Regions from separate parts of the Homo sapiens genome. Here region 1 is linked to region 2. Evidence: fine-mapped expression QTL. A gene starts in region 2. The other region holds a variant in brackets. All regions are shown on one strand. Distances are from middle to middle. Region 1 overlaps ALDH7A1 (aldehyde dehydrogenase 7 family member A1). Region 2 holds the start of ALDH7A1 (aldehyde dehydrogenase 7 family member A1).

Region 1 (11,964 bases), 57 kb before region 2:
AGGAAATAGCTGTCTCTACCATCACCAAATTCTACCAAACATATAAAAAGAAGCCAATACCTCCACAAATTCATCCATTTATTTGCTTCTTCACAAATGTTAACTAATTTCACACTATATGCCAGGCATCTTGCTCAATGAACACAGGAAAGCAAGAGAGCGTGAACAAACTAGACAAGGTCCTGCCCTCACAGAGCGTCCACTGAGTGAGTGAAACAGACATGAAAAAATCAGGGTGCGCTGCATCTGTTAGGGACAAAAGGAGGGAGAAGTTAATTTGACTTTGGGGTGAGGATGGTCATAAAAAGCTTTCTGTAACCTTCCTTACTGTTATTAAGCGATACAGACAAGAGAAAAGAAATACATGTTATAACAAACCAGAAATAACCCTGAAGTGAATTTTCTGTAGTGACTATTTAACAATAAGCCACAGTGCAGCTTGCGCTATGCTGCTTAATATGGTAAACAAAGTTCAGCCAAGGATCCTTTGCTGGAGGGAATAGCTTGTCCAGTTAGAAAGCTCCTTTTGTTTCTGAAAGCTACTAAAAAACTCAAGCCCTTCAAGTCATTTTAGCAACTCTGAGGGAACAATTATGCTTTTGTGCACAGACTTTAAAGAAAGCGTTTCACAGAGAAAAATCTTGTTGGTGGACAGAGAGGATGGCACATTGCCCAGGTTTTTTTTAATAAAGATGCAGGACTGAGCAGATGTGATAACTCTAGCCATTTAGTCACAGAGGCACATAGGTTATAAAATGTCAACAGTAGGGCAGGCTTCTTGTGTAGATTAGAAGTTCTGGGAGGCCACAGTGGAGAGAGCCCTGGGAAGGCTAAACTAGCCACAGCTGGGGTGGTTCTGTGCTTCCGGTGAGCAAGAATAAAATGAAATCCCTTGAGGAGGAAAGAAGGCAATGTGTTCGCCAGAAAAGTCATAGTTAAATGTAGAGGTCAAAAAATAAAAGGAAGGGAATGAGGCCAGGGGTGCTAAGCTTACCTGCATTCACAGAAAATACTACATGATTTGTGATTTACCTGGCAGCTGGGGTGGATGGCAGAGAAAGTCAAGGGCAGGCAAATCCCTTCTCTTGGTCTGCTCCTTGCACAGGGCAAACATGAGAATAAAAACTCATTGAGTTATTGCTGCAGGTTCTATGGTCTAGAAGCTATAGAAAATTGTCTGATGCTTTTTATTTATCTTTTTTGTTTTCTTTGAGACGGAGTCTCACTCTGTCTCCCAGGCTGGAGTGCAGTGTGTGATCTCAGCTCACTGCCATATCCCAGGTTCAAGCGATTCTTGGGCCTCAGACAGATGTGCACCACCACACCCGGCTAATTTTTGTTTTAGCATTTTTAGTAGAGACGGGGTTTCACTATGTTGGCCAGCTGGTCTAGAACTCCTGACCTCAGGTGATCCACCCACCTCGGCCTCTCAAAGTGCTGGGATTATAGGCGTGAGCCACTGTGCCCGGCCTCTTTTTTTTTTTTTTTTTTTTTTCATTTCAGGTGGTTAAAATCACTTGATCTCTCTCTTTGGGGCACCTGAAATCTGGATTTAAAGCACCGGGGAAACATTACAATGATTTTGCATAATTTTTTAGGTTGGAACAAATTGTTTCTTCAAGGAAGGAAAAAAAATTTTCAATGAATCGTTAATTCTTTTTTTCTCCTTTTATTTTCTTTGTTGACATTTGGCCAAAGATGAACTTTTTTCCTTTTTTATTTTTATCTATTTATTCACTTATTTTCAGAGATAGCATCTCACTCTGTCACCCAGGCTGGAGTGCAATGGTACAATCATAGCTCACTGCAACCTTGAATTCCTGAGCTCAAGGATCCTCCCGCCTCAGCCTCCCAAGTAGCTGGGACTACAGGCACGCACCACCACGTCTGGCTAATTTGTTTACTTTTTGTAGATTCAGGGTCTTGCTATGTTGCCCAAGCTAGTCGCCAACTCCTGACCTCAAGCGATCCTCCCACATCAGCCTCCCAAAGTGTTGGGATTACAAGCATAAGCCACTGTGCCCAGCTGTTATTTTTTCTTTTTTAAATTAAAGCTTTTAATACTGAGGGATGTAGTATAAAACTAGCATCTGATTCTCTAAGCTTCTCCAGCACAAAATAGGAGCAAGTTGATGTTCCTTTATACTATCCCCAGAAAAGATAAGTCAATGTGTCCTCTAGGCCCCAAGAAAGGGCACAGGGCACAGAACATGTAAATCTTCTCTCCCCTACCCTGTTTGAGATTGTGAGCACAGCTCACCTTCCTAGCTCAAAGCTGAATGTTTTCATGTTAGAAGCATGTTCAGTGACCCACTAAATAGGATCAAATATCTCATTTCATTCAGGAGATTTTCACAGGTGAAAGTCAAAGAATTTAAATATTCAGTGAACAATTTGAGTTCACCAGCTCAAAACAGACAGAAGCTAAAACTCAACTAGAAGATGTTTCCTTCTTCTACACTTCTGTACAGGGGTTCAACTCACTGCAATCCAAGACCAATCCATTCTAGCCAAGGTTCTTGGGTCTGTCGGCTGGCAGAATATGCCACCTCAAAATATGACACTTTGACATAAGGATTATTTTGAGCTGAAGGCAATTGAGAAGATCACGCCCGTAATCCTAGCACTTTGGGTGGCCGAGGCAGGCAGATCACCTGAGGTCAGGAGTTCAAGACCAGCCTGGCCAACATTATGAAACCCCGTCTCTACCAACAATACAAAACTTAGCCGGGTGAGGTGGCACACACCTGTAATCCCAGCTACTCGGGAGGCTGAAGCAGCAGAATGGCTTGAACCCGGGAGGCAGAGGTTGTGGTGAGCTGAGATTGTGCCATTGCACTCCAGCCTGGACAACAAGAGTGAAACTCTGTCTCAAAAAAAAGAAAAAAAAATGTATTGGTCCTTTGCTAAAATGCTATAAGCCCATGTTCCAACCAAACCTTTGAGTTTATTCATCTCTGAGTGTTCCCGCATGTAATTGCAGTGCACATACTAATAAAATTCTGATTGTTTTCTTTTGTTAATCTGTCTATGTCAATCCAATGCATAGGGGCTCAGCCAGAGAAGCTAGAAAGGTAATCAGAAAAAGAATTTGGTCCCTTTCAAAAGTTTCTTGAAGAGACTCCGCTGTCATTAGAGGCAGCTCTAGAGATCCTACCATACCTCCAGTGACCCAGCCTATAGACTCAAGACACAGCCCCGTCTCCTTTCTCTGCTCATTCTTGCTCAATCCCTGGACCTGCCAAACGGGGCCCTAGCCCCCAGACTATGTGGTTTCCCCTAGACCCTGTTTACTGAAGAAATACTCTTTGAATCAGGGTGACCCATCAGTCCAGACCTCTGAGCCTCGCTTAATTAAATGAGTGCCCCAAGGATGGTCCAGGCCTAGACCAGCTCCACACAGAAAGCAGGGAGCTCTAAGCGCTTCCATCAATAACACTGAGAGATGAAGCCAGCTGTACTTCCTGGGTGGAGTGGGGACTTAGAGAACTTTTCTCTCTAGCTAGAGGATTGTAAATTCACCAATCAGTGTTCTGTGTCTAGCTAAAGGATTGTAAATGGACTAATCAGCACTCTAAAATGGACCAATCAGCACTCTGTAAAATGGACCAATCAGCAGGATGTGGGCAGGGCCAAATGAGGGAATAAAACCTGGCCACCCAAGCCAGCAGCAGCAACACACTCAGATGTGGTGTTCCCAGTGTTTCCTGGCTAAAAGTTGGGAATCAAATGCAGGTCTCTTGACAGGCCTGGTGCCATAGATTAAGAATCTGCTGAGCCAGAGCATAGCAAATGGAGAAGAGGCCATGCTGAGCTAGAAGAGGCTTGAAATGTAACTTAGCCTGGAGAGAGAAATGTATAAAGTTGGGAAAGATGGTCTGAGCTGTCACCCATCTAGGGCTAATTGGAGTGCACAGCCTCCAACTAAAGAAACTTAAATTTGATTTTTTTGAAAGTTGTCTCCTGGCCTGGTGCAGTGGCTAACGCCTATAATCCTGAAATGGGAGAGTTCCCTGACCCCCCTCAGAGACGTGTGACCGAATGTGGCTCATCTGTTCGGCCACTGTGCACTCAAACCCCTTAGAGGAGGGGGAGCACGCAGGAGCTGGGGCAAGCGCTTCTGGGCTCTGACCCCACAGTAGCATCTAGGGGTGGGTGCCTGTAACTTCTGAAGCCCCAGTGGGCATATTACAGTACTTTTTTAGCTCTGCCGTCACAGATGGCTTAAGTGTTAACTAGCTCAGTGCCCTCTCCGGGTCCTTGTCCGGCATCCAGGAAGAATCAGGTCACACGGACAAATTGAAGGATGGTAAATGAGGGGGATTTTATTGCCAGATGGAGGTGGCTCTCAGCGGGATGGATGGGGACCTGGCGAGGGGATGGAGTGGGAAGATGATCTTCCCCTGGAGTTAGGCAGACCCACAGCCAATCTCCTCTCCTATCATCCCCAGGCAAACTCCTCTCAACATTCAGATGCTCCTTCCCTTCTCTCCTTCTCTGCTGCACTGCTCTTATGCTCCTCTGCTCTTCTGCTCGTGGAGCCTGAGGTTTGGGATTTATATGGGTACAGGATGGGGGGCATGGTGGGCCAAAAAGCAACATTTGGGCACAAAAACAGGAATGCTTCTTCCCATTTAGGGCCGTGGGTTTCCAAGCTTCAGGGTGGGGACTTTGCCAGGGAACCACCCTCTTCTACGCAGTATCTCCCTGCCTCCTCTCTGTATCACTCCCAGCACATTGGGAGGCTGAGGCGGGTGGATTGCTTGAGCTCAGGATTTTGAGAGCAGCCTAGGAAACATGGCAAAACCCTATCTCTACAAGAAATACAAAAATTCGCCAGGCATGGTGGCATGCGCCTGTGGTACCAGCTACTTGAGAGGTTGAAGTGGGAGGATTACTTGAGCCCAGGCAGTCAAGGCTGCAGTGAGCCATGACCACAACACTGCACTCCAGCCTGGGCAACAGTGGGAGACCTGTCTCAAAAAAAAAAAAAAAAAGAAAGAAAGAAAGGAAGTTGACTCCCAAACAAAATAAGCACTTAGACCAATTTTGGCCATAGGGCACCAGTCTTTGATTTAGATTTGGTCCAATTCATTATTGGAAGAGCTGGGGCACAAAGAGATCAAATTACTTCTCTAAGATCATTTGGCCCCTTAGAAACAGAGCTGTGCCTGGAATGCAGGTGCTCTACCTCCGGGACCTGTGCCCACTCCTCCTATTCCACTCTTCCAGCTTAAGTCCAGGCATCTCTCCTTTCTGCCCCAGAGCAAGCATGGGGCAGTCAAGTACTATTTTGATTCTGACTCAAAATTCTGCATTTAAGGAAAGATCAGTTCTTCTTTCTCTACCTCTTCTCTTCCCAAACAATTCAGTCCTGAAGCCATTAGATGGGTGAGAAGAGTGCCTCCACGTAGAGGAGCTGTACATGGGTGTCAGAGCCTCAACTAGGTGATGAGGGCACTCATGTAAGGACAAGTCCAGCACCATCAGAACCGGAGAGAGGTGGGGAGGGCGTCCTCATGAGATGGGAGATAAGTGATACACAAGGAGTGATCTACAAAAAAATGCATCAAGGGTAGTGAGGCAGGTTTCTCATCAGAGACAAGAGTTGCAGATAGTGAAAGGGAAAACTAAAAAGGAACGCTGTGGTGTTGGATAGGATTCGGAAGTTTTATGTAAACTCACACTTGTCCATATAAACAGATTTATAAATAAATGTAGATGTAAATGTCTGCCAGCTGCAAGGGCCTGGGAGCAGTGACATGCCCACATCAACAGGCATCCCTACACTAGACTCTGGCTTATAAACATGATGCTTTACCAAAAAAGACCTGGGATCCTTGAAGAAACGGCTGATTCTAGGGCTTGGGCAGGAAAAGTACAAACTGAACCTGGAACATCTTGTGCCAAAAAGAAAGGAAGTGCTCAGAGAAGGACAGGAACGTGTTGAAAGGACAGTGAAGCCAGCTTGAAGGGAGTCCTGCTGGCCAAATCAGGGATATAAAAATTTAGTTCGAGCATCAAAGTAAGTAATGTAATAAATGGATTATAACTCATTGGATAAAATAGAAAAATTTAAGTACATACAAATATAAATAAGTGAATCAATGGAAAGTTTGATGGAGAGCAGGACAGGTTCATAGTTTCAAAGTATCTCCCCTCACAAAGACCTATTAATTTACAAAGGGTAAAAGAGATGTTTCACAGGGGAGAACGCTGGCAGACACCACCTTAATCAAGAATCAAAGTTAATATCATTGGTATGGGCAAACGGAAATGACATCACACACTGCCTGGTAGGATGCAGGTGAGAATACGGTGTTTCTCTGTGAGTGTAGGGCTTAAGATGCACAACCTGAATTACATTATGAGGAAACGTCAAGTCGAGGGATGATCTATGAAATAAGTGGCGTGTAATTTCAAAAGCATGAAAGTCAAGAGAAGACTAAAAGAGACTAAAGAGATATGACAACATACAAGGGGCAAAAGTTGAACGGGATCTGAGGATTAGATATTAGTAACACGTTGATAGGATTCGGCTATGTGTCTCCACCCGAATCTTACATATTGTGATCC[C/T]CATTGTTGGAGGTGGAGCCTGGTGGAAGCTGATTGGATCATATGGGTGGTTTCTAATGGTTTAGCGCCATCCCCATAGTGCTGTCTTGTGATAGAGTTCTCAAGAGACCTGGTGGTTTAAAAGTGTGTAGCGCGGCCGGGCGCGGTGGCTCACGCCTGTAATCCCAGCACTTTGGGAGGCCAAGGTGGGTGGATCACGAGGTCAGAGATCCAGACCATCGTGGCTAACACGGTGAAACCTCGTCTCTACTAAAAGTACAAAAAAATTAGCCGGGCATGGTGGCACGCGTCTGTAGTCCCAGCTACTTGGGAAGCTGAGGCAGGACAATGGCGTGAACCCGGGAGGGGAGGCGGAGCTTGCAGTGAGCAGAGATCGCACCACTGAGCGGAGATCACGCCACTGGACTCCATCCTGGAGGACAGAGCGAGACTCCGTCTCAAAAAAAAAAAAAAAAAAAAAAAGTGTGTAGCTCTTCCCCCCTCACTTTCTTCCTCCGGCTCCGACCACGTGAAGACCATGCCTGCTTCCCTTCGCCTTCCGCCATGATAAGTTTCGTGAGGCCTCCCCAGCCACACCTCCCGTACAGCCTGTGGAACTGTGAGTCAATTAAACCTCTTTTCTCATAAATTACTCAGTCTCAGGTAGTTCTTTATAGCACTGTGAGAACAGACTAATACACACATCAATCCTAATTTTCTGATTTTGATGGTTGTAATGTAGTTATGCAGGAAAATGTCCTTGTCTGTGGGAAATATACACTAAAGCATTTGGGAGTAACAGGGCATCAGATCAACAACATTCTCAAATAATTTAGGGGGAAAAGTTCTATGTACTTGCAACTTTTCTTTAAGTTACGATTATGTCACAATAAAAGACACTGCAAAAAAAAGGAAAAGTCAACAATTAAGAGTCAGACAGGGAAGGTGAGCAAATAAGAACTCTGCTATTTCAGGGACACTATTCACATTCACAAGAATACTATGAGGCCAGGCTACTTGGATTCAAATCTCAGCCCCATCATTTATCAGCTGTGTGACTTGGGGAAAGTTACTCAACCTCTCTGTGCCTCAGTTTCCAAATCAATAAAGTGAAGATCATAATAGTATCTATTTCCTAGGGTTATGAGAATTCCATGGGTTTATATTTGCCAAGTGCTTTTAAAAGTGCCTGGAACACAGTAAGCATCATTTAAGTGTAAATAAAACGAATGACCCATGGAGTTATTCAAAATGGAATAACCTCACACATATGCTCACTGCAGGGAAAGAAGAATGGATGGAAAATTTTTTTAAAAAAAGTTTTGTTTTGTTAGGACAGGGTCTCACTATGTTGCCTAGGCTTGTCTCAAATTTCTGGGCTCAAGCAACCCTCCCTCCTCAGCCTCCCCAAATGTTGGGATTACAGGGATAAGCCATTACGTCCAGCCACATTTTTAACTTAAAAGATACAAACCTGCAATTATAGGCAGTAGGAAAGGCAAGTTACCAATGGTGCTGGAAAGTAAAGCAGCTCATAAATGTGGGGCATTGTCTGTTGACTGCAAAAACTTTTCCATGGTGACCTCCTGGATACAAAGTCAACACAACTCACTTCCCTGCTAAACAGATGATTGCTTTGACCAACAGTGACACCTACAGGTCAACACTGTAAAGACAATTCAATTATATCTGAATGTGGGCCAGATTTCTATAACCCTGGAATTGCCAGGCTGTAAGGATTCTCAACAAGCAAATAGCAAACATTGAGTAGTTGTTGGATCTATATTTCTATTTTCAAACCTAATCTACCTTAGGAAGTAACTGGTCTCTGCAGTAATTTATGCATAAGATGGGGAATCCCATTCACCGTAACAACTGAGCCGGGCACGGTGGCTCACACCTGTAATCCCAGCACTTTGGGAGGCCAAGGCAGCCTGGCCAACATGGCAAAACACTGTCTCTACTAAAAATACAAAAATTAGCCAGGCATGGTGGTGCGCACCTGTAATCCCAGCTACTCCAGAAGCTGAGGTATGAGAATCACTTGAACCCGGGAGGCAGAGGTTGCAGTCAGCTGAGATAGCACCACTGCACTCCAGACTGGGCAACAGAGACTTAAAAAAAAAAATCCGAAATCATAAAATATATAGGAATAAACACAAAAGTTGTTAAGACGTTGCATGAAATAAACTGCAGAATTTTGCTAGGAACCATAAAAATTTGATCAAAATACGTATCATTGATGTTTTTAAGATCTAAGTATTATATATTAGTTCTTCCTAACTTATAAATTTGAGTCCAATAAAAATCCCAAAGAAATTTTTTAAAAACCTGGAAAATGTTTCTAAATTTTATTTAGGAAAATAATTAAAATATTAAAAGCTGAAAACGAATGTGGAAAACATCTTAATAACAGTACCCAACATTTATTGAGCCCTTATCATGAACTTACCAGGCACTGTTAACTTTTATAATTTTACGCTTTAATCCTAACAATTGTATGGGACAGATATTATCAGCATCCTCATACAGTGGAAATAGATTATTTAAGCTTAGCAGCATCTGTGTTTCTTACCTAGGATAACAACTCTCATTTCTTTTAGGGGAATTATCTGTCCTTGATTTCAGCATTAGGACTATTAATCCAGGTGCTTTGCTCTCCCCTTGCCAAGGGGCAGGTAAATTACCTTAAAGGTAAATGATCCATGCTAGGCAAATTGCTTGGTCCTTTCCTGCAGTTTTAATTTTGAGAAACAAAAAGCCTAAAAACAGTTGAAGTTCACTCATTCTAGCAGTGGCGTTTCCACAAGACAGTTGATTTTTACCTGTTACCTAGCTAGGTCCCTAGAGGTAAGGAGACAAACTCAGAAAATAGCAACAGAATTCCATCTCCACTTGCAGACTAAAGAATAAAAAAAAGGAGTCATGTTAGTAGAATCTACAGAGCCACAGCAGAGGGGCCATCTAACAGGAGATGTAGACACAGAAAAAGGAATAAGCTTTCCAGCGAGATGTCTCTAGAGAAGGATCTCCTTCATGCCTCTCCAGAAAACATGAGAAGCTCCTGGTGACGAACCAATTCCTTCTTCATGGATGTGAAATGACCAGGATGCTATCAAGTCACCATGCTCTTTCGTCATGCCCAAAGTTGTGTGTGTTGGCTGTTCCACTGTCCTATCAGCCTACAGAAGGACAAGCAAAGCTTACAGAAGAATGTTCCTTAGGAGGAAGCAGCAACCGTGATCAGGATGAATGAGAAATCATCCCAATAAACACGCTTTGTGTACATTTTCCTTAAAAAAAAAAAAAAAAAAAAAGACAGTAACTACCACAGACTGGCAGGGAAGGAGTGGGAAAATTAATACTCTGACATTTTTTTTTCTGCTCTGATTTTCTACCACTGGCCAAACACAATCAGAAGCCAGAGGATAAAGCAAGCCCAGATGAAGTGGACCGTAGAGATCAGTCCCTAAGGACACACTGCAGGAGAATGTCAGAGAGTGGTTCTGGAGAGGCAAATTGGATCTGGGCTTTCCAAAACAGACCATGTTTGCTAAAGCCATAATTGGTTTCCGCAGCTTGCCACAAAGAAACCGAACTGATACAACCCACGTTACAGACAAGAAAATGAAGTTCAAAGAGATTAGGTTACTTTTTGCAGGTCACATGGCTAATATATGTAGAACTCTAAAACAATTTAAGTAGAAGAAATTTAAAAGATCACAGAATCAAATGTTATTTTCCCTGGAGTTAGTAACTGCCCTTTTTATTGCTTAATTTGCTTTGTATGTTTTTTTCTCTTATTGTAAAATACAACATAAAACTCACCATTTTAACCATTTTAAAATGAGCAATTGAGTAGCATTTAGTATATTTGTAGAGTTGTGCAATGACCACCACTATCTAACAGAATCCTATAGAGCCACAGCAGAGGCGACACCTGACAGGAGATGTAGTCGCAGAAAAGGGAATAAGCTTGCCCTTCCGTCTGCACAGGGAAATGGCATTCTATTTATCTATATACACACACACATATACCAATTACTGAATCAGGATACACAGCTAAAAACAGATCCTGTTATATGTAAGAATGCAGTGTACTATAAAAGAGGTATCAGTGTGAAAAGGACAACCCAATTGTCTAATTGGAGTTGAGGAATTATTTTTATTTTTAAAAGGGAAATTAACGTAGACAAATCGTAACATGTACCCCAAATCCAAATGGATTAAAGACAAAAATGTCAATAAAACATTTGTGGACCTTTCCAATAGAAAAAAAAAAAGAGCAAACTCTAACTGCCTACAACATTTTAAATCTAGAATCCTATATTCAATCAATATGGGGATAAAGTTCTTCCCCTTGGATAGGAGAGGTTTCGTTTGGTTTTCTTTTAATTTCCTCCAAAACAATCATTGGCAGGAAGCTTCTGCAGGATAAGCTCCAGGTGTAGAAAAAAAAAAAAAAAAAAAAGTTTGTTGGAGACCATAGGAATTTCATAAAAATATTGAAACTGAAAACACTTAAAAAGCATTCCAAATCAGCTTTCCAATCTGCAACCTTTGTTAGAATGAAGGCAACAAGAAAATGGTCTGAAAGTGCCAGGGAAGAGAAGAGGAAGGACACAGAGCCCTCTTGGTCCCTTCAGCATTTTCAGGAGACAGAATGCCACAGAGAATTTTCCACAGAGCTGGGCATGGTGGCACACTCCTGTAATCCCAACAACTCAAGAGGCTGAGGCAGGAGGATCGCTTGAGGCCACAAGTTCAAGACGAGCATGAGCAATGTAGTATGACCCAATCTTTACAAAAAAAAATAATAATCAGCTGGGCACAGTGGCATGCACCTGTAGTCCCAGCTACTGGGGAGCATGAGGTGGAAGGATAGATTGAGCCCAGGAGTTGGAGGCTGCAGTGAGCCACTATTGCACCACTGCACTCCAGTGTGGGCAAAACTGAGACACCAAAAAAAAAGAAGTGTTCTGTGGTTGCAGAGCAAGAGAGAGAGGAGGCTTAACAGATTCCCACCCTGAAAGAGAAAGTAGGAAGCAGAGTACATAATAGCACTCAATTTCCTTTGAGAAAACTGCCTTCCCTCCATTGTGAGAAGTCTTCACCTGGAGGGCCTGCCTCCTCACTGCTGCAGCCAGGAGCCAGGTCTTCACCCACTTCCCAGGGAGTCACAAGAGCCTGGCTGCTAGGCTCAGCGAATGGATGCTCTCTCCAAGTACAGCAAGATCCTAAGCAAGTTAGGCTTTAGTGCCGTGGCAGAAGCAAGCATGCTGAACACAATTCCCCGCATCCACAATGGAGGCTGGGCATTGCCAGCAGTAGCGGTTGGAACACAGGATTTAGGAGGAGGCAGCAGTTATGAAATGCTCAAGATAACCAGTAATGAGCAGCACAAGACCC
Region 2 (11,964 bases):
TAGACACATACAATAGACGTTTCTAGTCAAAAGACAACATGTTAAGTTGCACTAGCATTCAAAACAGGATATGCAAAGAGTGAACCCTCATGTAAATTGTGTACTTTAGTTTATAATAACACATGAACATTGGCTCATCAGTTGTAACAAAATATGACATACTAATGCAAAATGTTAATAACAGGGGAAATGGCCTATTACAGGCATGGTGGCTCATGCCTGTAATCCCAGCACTTTGGGAGGTTGAGGTGGGTAAATTGCGTGAGCCCAGGAGTCTGAGACCAGCCTAGGCAACAGAGCAAAACCTCATCTCTACAAAAAATACAAAAATTAGCCAGGTGTGGAGGAACATGCCTGTAGTCCTAGTTACCAAGGAGGCTGAGGTGGGAGGATTGCTTGAGCCCAGGAGGTCAAAGCTGCAGTGAGCCGTGAGCTGTGAGCATGCCACTGTACACTAGCCTGGGCGACTCTGTCTTAAAAAAAAAAAAGAAGAAAAGGAAACTTGGGAAGAGGAATGAGGGAGTAATGGGAATTCTGTACTTTCTACTCGTTTTTCTGTAAATTTAAAACTGCTGTAAAAAATAAAAGTCTATTAATTTCTTTTTTCCTTTGAGACAGAGTTTTGCTCTTGTTGCCCAGGCTGGGGTGCAATGGCTCAATCTCCGCTCACTGCAAGGTCGGCCTCCCAGGTTCAAGTGATTCTCCTGCCTCAGCCTCCCAAGTAGCTGGGGTTACAGGCGCGCACCACCATGCCTGGCTAATTTTGTATTTTTAGTAGAAACGGGGTTTCTCCATGTTGGTCAGGCTGGTCTCGAACTCCCAACCTCAGGTGATCCGCCCACTTGGCCTCCCAAAGTGCTGGGATTACAGGCGTGAGCCATCGTGCCTGGTCTATTTTTTTGTTTTTGTTTTTTTTAAGTATATATGTATAGGAAGGCCAGGTGAAGTGGCTAACGCCTGTAATCCAAACACTTTGGGAGGCCAAGGTGGGTGGATCACGAGTTCAGGAGTTCGAGACCAACCTGGCCAGTATGGTGAAACCCTGTCTCTACTAACAATACAAAAATTAGCCAGGCCTGCCACTCCGTCTGGGAAGTGAGGAGCGCCCTGCCCAGCCACCGCCCCATCTGGGATGTGAGGAGCGCCACTGCCCGGCCGCCCCACCATCTGGGAAGTGAGGAGTGCCTCTGCCCAGCCACCCAACTGACTGGGAAGTGAGGAGCGCCTCTGCTCGGCTGCCCACCATCTGGGAAGTGAGGAGGACCTCTGCCCAGCTGCCGCCCCATCTGGGAAGTAAGAAGCGCCTCTGCCCAGCTGCCCACTGTCTGGGAAGTGAGGAGCACCTCTGCCCAGCTGCCCAATGTCTGGGAAGCGAGGAGTGCCTCTGCCCAGCTGCTGCCCCATCTGGAAAGTGAGGAGCGCCTCTGCCCAGCTGCCCACTGTCTGGGAAGTGAGGAGTGCCTCTGCCCAGCTGCCGCCCCGTCTGGAAAGTGAAGAGCGCCTCTGCCCAGCTGCCACTGTCTGGGAAGTGAGGAGCACCTCTGCCCAGCTGCCACCCCGTCTGGAAAGTGAAGAGCGCCTCTGCCCGGCCGCCACCCTGTCTGGGAAGTGAAGAGCGCCTCTGCCCGGCCACCGCCCTGTCTGGGAAGTGAGGAGCGCCTCTGCCCGGCCGCTGCCCTGTCTGGGAAGTGAGGAGCCCCTCTGCCTGGCCGCTGTGCAACCTTCCAAGTGTGAAGTGACAGCCTTGTGTGTGATCTTTTCTGTCTTCTCCAAGTTTGCATTTTTGATGTTAAAGTTTACTTTTTAATTAAAAGTTTTAAATTGGAGAATATATTTTTTAAAAAAATTAGCCAGGCCTGGTGGCGCACACCTGTAGTTTCAGCTACTTGGGAGACTGAGGCAGGAGAATCACTTGAACCCGAAAGGCAGAGGTTGCAGTGAGCTGAGATCACACCACTGCAGAGTGACAGAGTGAGACTCCGTCTCAAAAGAAAAAAGTATGTATGTATAGGAAAACAACAATTTAAAAAAAATTATGCAGCTGGGCCTGGTGGTTCACGCCTGTAATCCCAGCACTTTGGGAGGCCAAAGAGGGCAGATCGTTTGAACTTAGGAGTTCGAGACCGCCCTGGGCAATATGGTGAAACCCCACCTCTACAAAAAATACAAAAAAATTAGCCAGGCATGGTGGTGTGTACGTGTAATCCCAGCCACTTGGGAGGCTGAGATGGGAGGATCCCAGGCCCAGAAGGCAGAGGTTACAGTGAGCCAAGATTGGGCCACTGCACTCCAGCCTGGGTGACAGAGCCAGACCCTGTCTTAAAAAAAAAAAAAAAAAGCAATAACTTTAGGATGGTATGGAATGCAAGCATCACAGGTCACAAAATTTTATACACACCATGTATATATGGATGTACAATAATCACAACTATGAAATAAATACATGAAAGACTGGAAGGAAATGCACCAAAACCTAAACCTAATGAACATTTTGCATTGCAGAGGTTGGGGTAAGGGGACTAAATTTGTTTATCTTATTTACAGCATCAATCTTTTCTAAAAAAAAAGAATATTTATTACTTTTATGATCAGAAATAAATACAAGTAAGTTTTTAAAACAATGAAGGACACTGTTTTGGACAGTATTCTCTATCCAGGTAGGGTGAACTTTACCTAGCACACTGTTTACTTGTGGAAGTGGTATTTTTCTGCCCAAGGATACTTTTGATTGTGTATAATGGAACCCTAGGCCATACTTCTATCCATAATTAAAGTAGAGGAAAGATGTGCTTCATGCTTTACACAAAGACGTATCTTGGCTGATAAAAAAAAAAAGCTTCATCCAACCCAGGGCTCTGTTGGACAGGCTGCTACTCTGCAATCCACCCCAACCCCACCCAACCCCCCTTGCAATCACTCACTCAGAGAAAATACTGCAGCTCAGTAGTCCCTCAGCAGTCCCACACCCAACAGCACAGGGTTTAACTCAAATGTATTGAGGCTTTTCCTGTGCCAGGCTCTCCAGTAAGCACTTTAAATGATTAACTCATTTAACCCTCCCAGGAGACAGGCACCCCCAGTCTTTTCTTTTTACAAGACAAAGCACACTGAGGATGGGGGTAGTGGAAAGGTTGGGAAATCAGGCTATCCTAGTTCGCCTTTACTCTCCCCTTCTCAGGAGCCTAGCTCCCACCTAGTGACAAGTCAGTGTGGCCAGCCCAGCACCAGTCACAGTTCCCACATTTGCTCATTTAACCAATGGTGGAGACTCAGAGACCAAGGAGGCTGACTCTGCCTCACAGCCTGATTAGACAGTCAAGGAACATGAGCCTCTGGCCCTGAGAAAGGGATGCTGCCACTGCTCTTTTTTTTTTTTTTTTTTTTGAGATGGAGTCTCACTCTGTCGCCCAGGCTGGATGGAGTGCAGTGATGCTATCTTGGCTCACTGCAGCCTCCGCCTCCCAAGCTCAAGCAATTCTCCTGCCTCAGCCTCCTGAGTAGGCTGGATTACACGCGCCACCACATTCGGCTAATTTTTGTATTTTTACTAGAGACAGGGTTTCACCATGTTGGCCAGGCTGGTCTCGAACTCCTGACCTCAGATGATCCACCCGCCTCAGCCTCCTGAAGTGGTGGGATCACAAGCATGAGCCACCAGGTGCGATCTGCTGTTGTTCTTTAAACCAGGAATGCTGACCTATTGCTGAGATACTCCCAGACAAATCTGGCAGGGGGATAGAGGAGGAGCAAACAAATATTTCTGGCATAGATCTTCTATTCATTTTCTATTTAATTATAAATTCAAGTAATTTCAGTGAAGAATAGTGTTCACAGCTCAAGTTTATACTATACCAGCACAAAGTTTTAATTCATTTAAATTTATCCATTCAATGAATGGCAAGTACAAAAAAGGCACTACCCTAGAAATATGGCAGAGGTGTTTCCAAAACAGCAGGAGCCCTAGTACAGTATCACAGCCCCCAAGGAGCTCACATTTTAACAAGGCGGCACTGACCTGCTTATCAGATGTTTATGTATCTCATTGGTTACAATAGGCAAAGTGATCTTTTCTGAATTCTAGAAACAAAGGCCATACTTACATCTGCCCAGATTTTCCATGCTTCTCTTGCTTTCTTTACAGTTTCTTCATAGTCTGCCACACTGGCCTAAATTAAGAATTAGGGGGACAGAAAGGGGGAAATAAAGAGAAATGATGATGATCTTCTAGAACACAAAAATATTTTCAGAAAAGAGTTGGGAAATCTCTAGGGTTCCCTAACATTTATGGCTGAGAATGATTCCCACAGTCTATACTTCCAAAAACTAGCTAGAACCCGGTAAAACAGGTTGGTATCCAACTATGCTTTAAAACCTTGCTTTTCAAAGCAAAATCTGTCAGCTTCATCTGGGAACATGTAAGGCATATTAGAAATGCAGAACCTTGAGCTCCAACCCAGACTTCGGAAATCAGAAGCTTCATTCTAACAAAATCCTCAGGTACTTCAGAAGCACTGCCTTAAATGGCCCCCTGCCTAATCTTTCTACGCTTCACCTTTTCTATGGTTCTTTCCTTTTCACGCCCCCACCCAAGAGAGGACAGTCTCCCCCAGACAGTCCTAAATGACAAATGAAAAATAAACACATTATTCTCTTCATTTGTGATTTTATATTATTCTTGACCTGCCTAACTGGCTTCTGCCTCTAAAGAAAGCCTGCACAAACTCCTTGTGTATAATTTGAATTAAACACACACACACACACACACACACACACACACACACTCTTACCTGTCGGACTCTTGCTATTGGCTCGTTGTTAGCAGGGCAATAGGTCGTAATAACCTTAAAACAAAAGGATGATGATCATGTATAGAAAACGTAATCCCTTTTGAAGTAAGGGAATAGACCAAACGGGGAAGAAAAACAAGAGAGGAAAAAATGATATAATACCCAAACTCAAAAAGCTTAGGTTAACTTCTGTTACATATAAACCACTCTACAGAGGTTGTCTTTCATTTCTGACTTAAACATTAGAAACTACCTTTCTGCAAAACTCGCCTCTGACATCTCAATATTAGGCATATAAACAAAAGCCTTAACATAAGCAGTTATTTTGTCTCTTTTTCCATTAATAACAGACCAAACTGACTAGTTTTAGTTATTTCTTCTCTTCCTTACTCTGCCCACCCTCTGCTCAGAGATGAAATGGCCAAGGCAGGAAAACTGTTGGAAAGTCCCGTGTCCACACCAACTGGAGAGGTCTCAGGTCAACAATGAAAGGGAAAATCAAGGCACAGCTAAAAAGGCCTCCAAGAGCCTAATGATCAGATACCACACGGAAATCAGGATGAAACACCGAGGTCTGAGGAGCAATTAAAATTATCTGTATCTCCTACAGCCACTGATTACCAAAAGACGTGTTCCCTCTACCAAGGCAGGTTCATTATATAATATACAACGTCCAACAAAGTTTGTTAACTGTTACATAACATCCTCCTATAAAAAACTTTCTTTTAAAAAAAAATCTGGGCGATAATAACCTTACCTTTCCATTGTATTCTATAAAACATTGTTTTGAGCAGTAATGGGTATCAGGCGCGGTGTTAAGCCCTGGGCAATGGAGAAATGCTGAAAATCCAGTCCTCAAAGGAGTTCACAGCCCAACGTACAACATGGCAAGATTTCGGCACGTCCAAGCTTGCAAACTCCCAAAGAATTCAGGAAGGAAGATAACTTAAAACTACACTGAAGAACGTTACCTGCGGTGCACGTCACAGCTGAAGAGCCAGAGTTAAGCTCTAAATTAAGATCAGTTGCACCGCTCAGTGTGCCACATTTCTCACAAGACCATAGATCCCAAGACCATAAGGTTTTAATTTTTTTTTTTTTTTTTTTTTTTGAGACGGAATTTCGCTCTTGTTGCTCAGGCTGGAGTGCAATGGCACGATCTCGGCTCACTACGACCTCCACCTCCCGGGTTCAAGCGATTCTCCTGCCTCAGCCTCCCTAGTAGCTGGGATTACAGGCATGCGCCACCACGCCCGGCTATTTTGTATTTTTTTTAGTAGAGACAAGGTTTCTCCATGTCGGTCAGGCTGGTCTTGAACTCGCTACCTCAGGTGATCCGCCCGCCTAGGCCTCCCAAAGTGCTGGGATTACAGGGGTGAGCCACCGCGCCCGGTAGACCATAATGTTTTAAATATGCGCGGGAAGTTTAGCCCCTACAGCTCCAAAATGACGTCGATTCTGCATAGCACACAAGGACCTAAAATCTAAGTTTTTGTTTTAAAGGCACCCTACACGAGAAAACTTTTACTGTGGAGCTTCAAAATCTCCCATGCTACTACCGCATCCAGCGCCAGCGGGGAGTCGGTAGGTCAGTGCCCGCCCGGCCTCCTCGAGCGAGCCCCGGCGGCTGCAGAGATTTCTTGAGCGCCCGCGTACCTCTCCCCGGCCTCCCCAGCTTCCATTATACACGCCCTCGTTTTCCTCGCGGAGCCCCAGCTCTTTCAGCCACGCATACTGGGGCTGATTGATGAGGAGAGTGGACATGAAGGCGGCAGGCCTGCTCCAAGGTCCAGAGAGCTTGCTGGTCTTTGCAGCGTGCACACACAGCGCGCGAGGAAGGCGCCACATACTGAGCCCGGGACTCGGGATGAGCCCAAGGCCCTGAGAGCTGCTGAAATAGAGCCCCGCCCCCCGCCCGGGAGAACCCATTGGGCAGACCCGACCCCTCCCACTGGGCACGACCCCGCCACCGCCCCGTCTGCCCCTGGTCTTCCGGAGGAGCCTGCGGCTGAATCCTGCCTGGAACAATGGGAGTGCTACAGGGAGGAGTGGGCTGCTGCCATCTGGTGAAAGACTCCGGGAGCCACAGTTCCAGCTGGGAATTCTTTTCAGCAAAATATTGGCGCTGAAGTACAGTAGGCTATAGCAGGGGTTCTGAAACTGTAAAATGCGTGTAATGACCTGGTCGTCGTGGTAAATGCACATTCTGATTCAGTAAGTCTGGGCTAGGGTCGGAGAGCCGACATTCCTAACCAGCTCCTCAGCGATGGTGACGCCTCTTGTCCCTGGAGTAGGCAACGGAGGGTTTGTATTGGGGGGCGGGGGAAGGGTTGGTTGTTTTCACTGTTTTGGTAGATTACAAATTAAAGTTTTCTAATTAATGATAAATATTAGATTGCTGCATTTCCTCTATAAATATCCTGCCTGGGTATATTCTTACTTTTTTTTTTTTTTTTTTTTTTTGGAAACGGAGTTTCGCTCTTCTTGCCCAAGCTAGAGTGCAACGGCGCGATCTCGGCTCACTGCAACCTCCGCCTACCGGGTTCAAGCGGATTCTCTTGCCTCAGCCTCCTGAGTAGCTGGGATTACAGGTGTGCACCACCACACCCGGCTAATTTTTTGTATTTTTAGGACAAACGGGGTTTCACCATGTTAGTCAGGCTGGTCTGGAACTCCTGACCTGAGATGATCTGCCCGCCTCAGCCTCCGAAAGTGCTGGGATTAGAGACATGAGCCACTGCGCCCGGCCTCTTACTTTTTTTTTTTTAAGATGGAGTCTCGCCCTATCGCCCAGGCTGGAGTGCAATGGCACGATCTCCACTCACTGCAACTTCAACCTCCCAGGTTCAAGTGATTCTCCTGCCTCAGCCTCCCCAGTAGCTGGGATTACAGGTGCACACCACCACACCAGCTAATTTTTGTATTTTTAGTAGAGACGGGGTTTCTCCCTGTTGGCCAGGCTGCTCTCGAACTCCTGACCTCGTGATCTGCCCGCCTCTGCCTCCCAAAGTGCTGGGATTACAGGCGTGAGCCACTGTGTCCGGCCTATTCTTACATTTTTTTTTTTTTTTTGAGACGTAGTCTCGCACTGTTGCCAGGGCTGGAGTCCAGTGGCGCAATCTCGGCTCACTGCAACCTCCGCCTCCCGGGTTCACGCGATTCTCCTTGCCTCAGCCTCCTGCGTAGCTGGGATTACAGGCGCCCACCACCACGCTTGGCCAATTTTTTGTATTTTGAGTAGAGAAGGGGTTTCACTATGTTGGCCAGACTGGTCTCGAATTCCTGACCTCGTGATCCGCCCACCTCAGCCTCCCAAAGTGCTGGGATTACAGGTGTGAGCCACCACGCCCAGCTCTTACTCTTAAAGAATAAAGACAGTTTTGATCAATTTCTTTCATTCTCCATTTCTGTCTTCCTACAATATCCTTTCCATTCATGCATGCCCCATCTCATTTCACAACAACTGGGCCTACCCTGTAAAACGGAAATACTAATATCTCAATCATCATTATTTGAACATGAGTTTAAAATATGCTTGCCCACGCTAGAGTGCAGTGGCAGGATCATGGCTTACTGAAGCCTCGACCTCCGAGGCTCTAGTGATCCTCCTACCTCAACCTCCCAAGTAGCTGGGACTACAGGCATGCCATCACACCCAGCTAATTTTTGAGGATTTTTTGTAGAGACAGGGTTCCCCCATGTTGCCCAGGCTGGTCCGCACCTCCTCGGCTCAAGGGATCTGCCTTGCGCCTCCCAAAGAGCTGGGATTACAGGCTTGAGCCACCACTCCTGGCCCCTTTCATCTCTGCATTCAAACATAAGCTTTATCTCTTCCACCCTTATAGTACAAATGATTTGAACAAACACTCTGCATGTATCAAGCAGCTACCAGAAACTGCAGTTAGTACTAGGCATACATGAATGATGCTTCCTTTTGTAAATGCTACAGTTTTTTCCTGTTAGGGCAAGGACCATCTCTGACTCATCTTTGCATTGCTCCACAGTTCCTAGCATTGTTCCAAGTTTACGCTCACTTACATGAGTATATGAACAAATGAACCAATGAATAACACCGTCGAAGGAGTTGCAATGCCCTATCTGACATTGGTAATCTCTATCAACAACCCTGCTGCTGTCTTCCATCTACACGGAGGACCATGGTGCTAATTTTTCTAATTTTAATTCTCAGACTTTATTTATTTATTTATTTATTTATTTAGAGACGGAGTCTCACTCTGTCCCCAGGCTGGAGTGCAGTGGTGCAATCTTGGCTCACCACAACCTCCGCCTCCCGGGTTCAAGTGATTCTCCTGCCTCAGCCTCCTGAGTAGCTGGGACTACAGGCACTCACCACCACACCTGGCTAATTTTTCAATTTTTAGTAGAGACAGGGTTTCACCACGTTGGCCAGGATGGTCTCGATCTCCTGACCTCGTGATCCGCCCGCCTTGGCCTCCCAAAGTGCTGGGATTACAGGCATGAGCCACCGCGCCCGGCTAATTCTCAGACATTTTAACTGATTCTCATCACTTTCTATCAGCCAACAAGATTATTTGTCCACATATCCCAAAACCACATTCTTCCTTCTCTTCTCTTCCATTCACTTCAACGAAATTAAAATACATAGAGGCACAAAGGATTAGGAGCAACACATAGTGTCATCAAGGAGTGTTGGCTGCCCTCTCTTCAAGTCAAGAAGAGAAGTGTGCCCATCCTTCTGAACCAATTCTGGCTGGCTGGGCACAGTGGCTCATAGCTGTAATCCCAGAACTTTGGGAGGCCAAGATGGAAGGATCACTTGAGTGATCAGAAGTTCGAGACCAGCCTGGCCAACGTGGTGAAACCCCATCTCTACTAAAAATACAAAAATTAGCTGGATGTGGTGGTACACGTCTATAGTCCCAGCTACTTGGGAGGCTGAGCCTGGAGAATCGCTTAAACCCAGGAGATGGAGGTTGCAGAGCGCCAAGATCATACCATTGCACTCCAGCCTGGGGGACAGAGCAAGACCCTGTCTCAAAAAATAAATAAGCCAATTCTGGGAATATAGGCACCAGCAACTGCTCACATTGAAAACAGGGATTGCATCCTTCTTCTACATCCTTTTTTCAAAACTCCTGTTAGCCCTGCTTAACAGGAGTTCAGGAAAAATCAGAAATGATGAATTGTAATGAGGTTGAGCAGGAAGAGACAGAATTAAATGAATCATATATGAAAGCACTTTGAAAACTGCAAAGCCCTGTAGAAATGAAAATGCAGTGGCTAAACTCAGGACACCTTAAAACAGTTCTGTATTAAAAGTGGCAGAGGAGCCAGGTGCTGTGGCTCACGCCTGTAGTTCCAGCACTTTGGGAGGCCAAGGAGGGTAGATCAGGAGTCAGGGTGGTCAGGAGTTCAAGACCAGCCTGGCCAACATGGTCAAACCCCGTCTCTACTAAAAATACAAAAATTAGCCGAGCCTGGTGGTGCATGCCTGTAATCCCAGCTACTCGGGAGGCTGAGGGATGAGACTCGCTTGAACCCAGGAGGCAGAGGCTGCAGTGAGCCGAGATTTTGCCACTGCACTGTAGCCTAGGAGACAGAGCAAAACTCTTGTCTCAAAAAGAAGAAAGAATTTAATAGACAGGAGGCCACCCATGCCACGTGGGAGACAGAGTTATTACTCAAATCAATCTCTTGGAGAATTCAGGGACTAGTGTTTTTCAAAGATAGTTTGGGGAAGGGATGGAGTGGCTAAGCAATGGGTTCTTGCTGCTTATTGGTTGGGGATGCAGTCATAGGGGTATGGGAAATTGTCCTCAAGCAGCTCGACAACTTCTGTGTGGGAACCCAGAAGCGGTTAGAGGTTCAGGTGGAACCATTGGTAGTCAGACATGCAAAATATCTGAAAAGATATCTCAAAACGCCAATCTTAGGGTCTACAATAGTGATATTATCTGGAAGAGTAATGGAAAAGTTGCATACCTTGTGACCTCTGGGATAATGACTGGCAACGGTTTATGTCTACACCTTAGCAGAATTCAGCCTCCTTTATCCGTCTACCCTGGTGGTCTCTTACTAGCTTTACAAAGGCGGTTGGCTTTTGGGGAAGGGTTATTATCATTTAAACTATAAACTAAATGTCTCCCAAAGTTACATTGACAGGCCCAAGCACAGGAATAATTAAGGGCAGCTTGAAGGCTAAAAGCAAGATAGGGGTTGGCTAGATCAGATCTCTCCCACTGCCATAATTTTCTCACTGTTATAATTTTCGCAAAGGCGGGTTCCAAGATAACCCTTAAAGAATGGGGTGGGTTGAGGGAAGGGCCTCTCAGGCCGAGTGAACAGCAAATGCAGAGGCCTGGCCTGAGGAACAACAGGTTCAGCGCGCCAGCGGTTAGGCAGGGGGACACACTAGGACCAGTGACCAGATGCCCAGTCCACATGACCTTGTTTGCCATGTGGCAAAGTAAAACAGAGGTTCCTCTTCAAAAACTTTCCTCCCCGTCTAATTAGGAATAAATAGTAACTTCTCTTAAAAGCAAAATTTATTCAAAGATCTGTGCTAACATTCTTAAATATCTGCTAGCCATAATAAAAAAAAATGTACTTTATGTTCTTAGCTCCCACAATTTAGCCTAAATATTTGCCCTGGCATGCTTTTACTAGTCCAAGCAAGCATTAGGTCATAGCCTGTTCCTCTTCCTTATTTAAAAGTGTTTTCATCTTTCTCAGCATTCCACAAGTTACTTCCTCCTTCCTTTGTTCTCCTCTACCTTTGCCTCTTTTAAAAAGTTCTAAGTTGCTAGCCAATCGGGACAAATACAAAATGTGAGGTCCGGTCCAGCCAATAAAAACCAGCCACAGCAGTAAGGTAAACACGTCAGGTTATAAATGACCCTGTCTCCTTTTGTTCAGTGTACTCTCCTGGCAAAACTGCTGGCGAGTGTACCCTTTCTGCAGAAAGTAAAAATGGCCTTATTCAGTAAGTTAAATTTATGTTGCTATTTCTTTACGACACCGGAAAACAAACATTTCAAACACCATGCTGAGAACTCAGTCCTTGTTTTGGGGAGGGATGCACTTGGAAGATTCGAGCTAAGGTACAATCCTCCCTAGGTATCCGCGGGTCATTGTTTTCAGGACCCCCACAGATACCAACATCCGCCATGCTCAAGCCCCTTACATTATGTGGGGG

What was found. PIP is the estimated chance that this variant, and not a neighbour inherited with it, causes the effect.
Region 1: its variant is fine-mapped to the expression of ALDH7A1 in visceral fat (GTEx, PIP 0.96).

The regions. Positions count from the first base shown.
Region 1 is chr5:126,531,141-126,543,104 of GRCh38, forward strand. ALDH7A1 (aldehyde dehydrogenase 7 family member A1) reads right to left here. Exons shown (of 18, transcript NM_001182.5): 18 at 10,701-11,964. Among named protein-coding and RNA genes, the nearest start is that of ALDH7A1, 58 kb to the right of the region's middle. The variant C/T (reference allele first, on the strand shown) is at 6,577.
Region 2 is chr5:126,588,564-126,600,527 of GRCh38, forward strand. ALDH7A1 (aldehyde dehydrogenase 7 family member A1) reads right to left here and starts at 6,656. Exons shown (of 18, transcript NM_001182.5): 1 at 6,444-6,656; 2 at 4,788-4,841; 3 at 4,101-4,166. The coding sequence starts at 6,635. RefSeq lists a silencer at 8,960-9,123 and an enhancer at 11,466-11,964.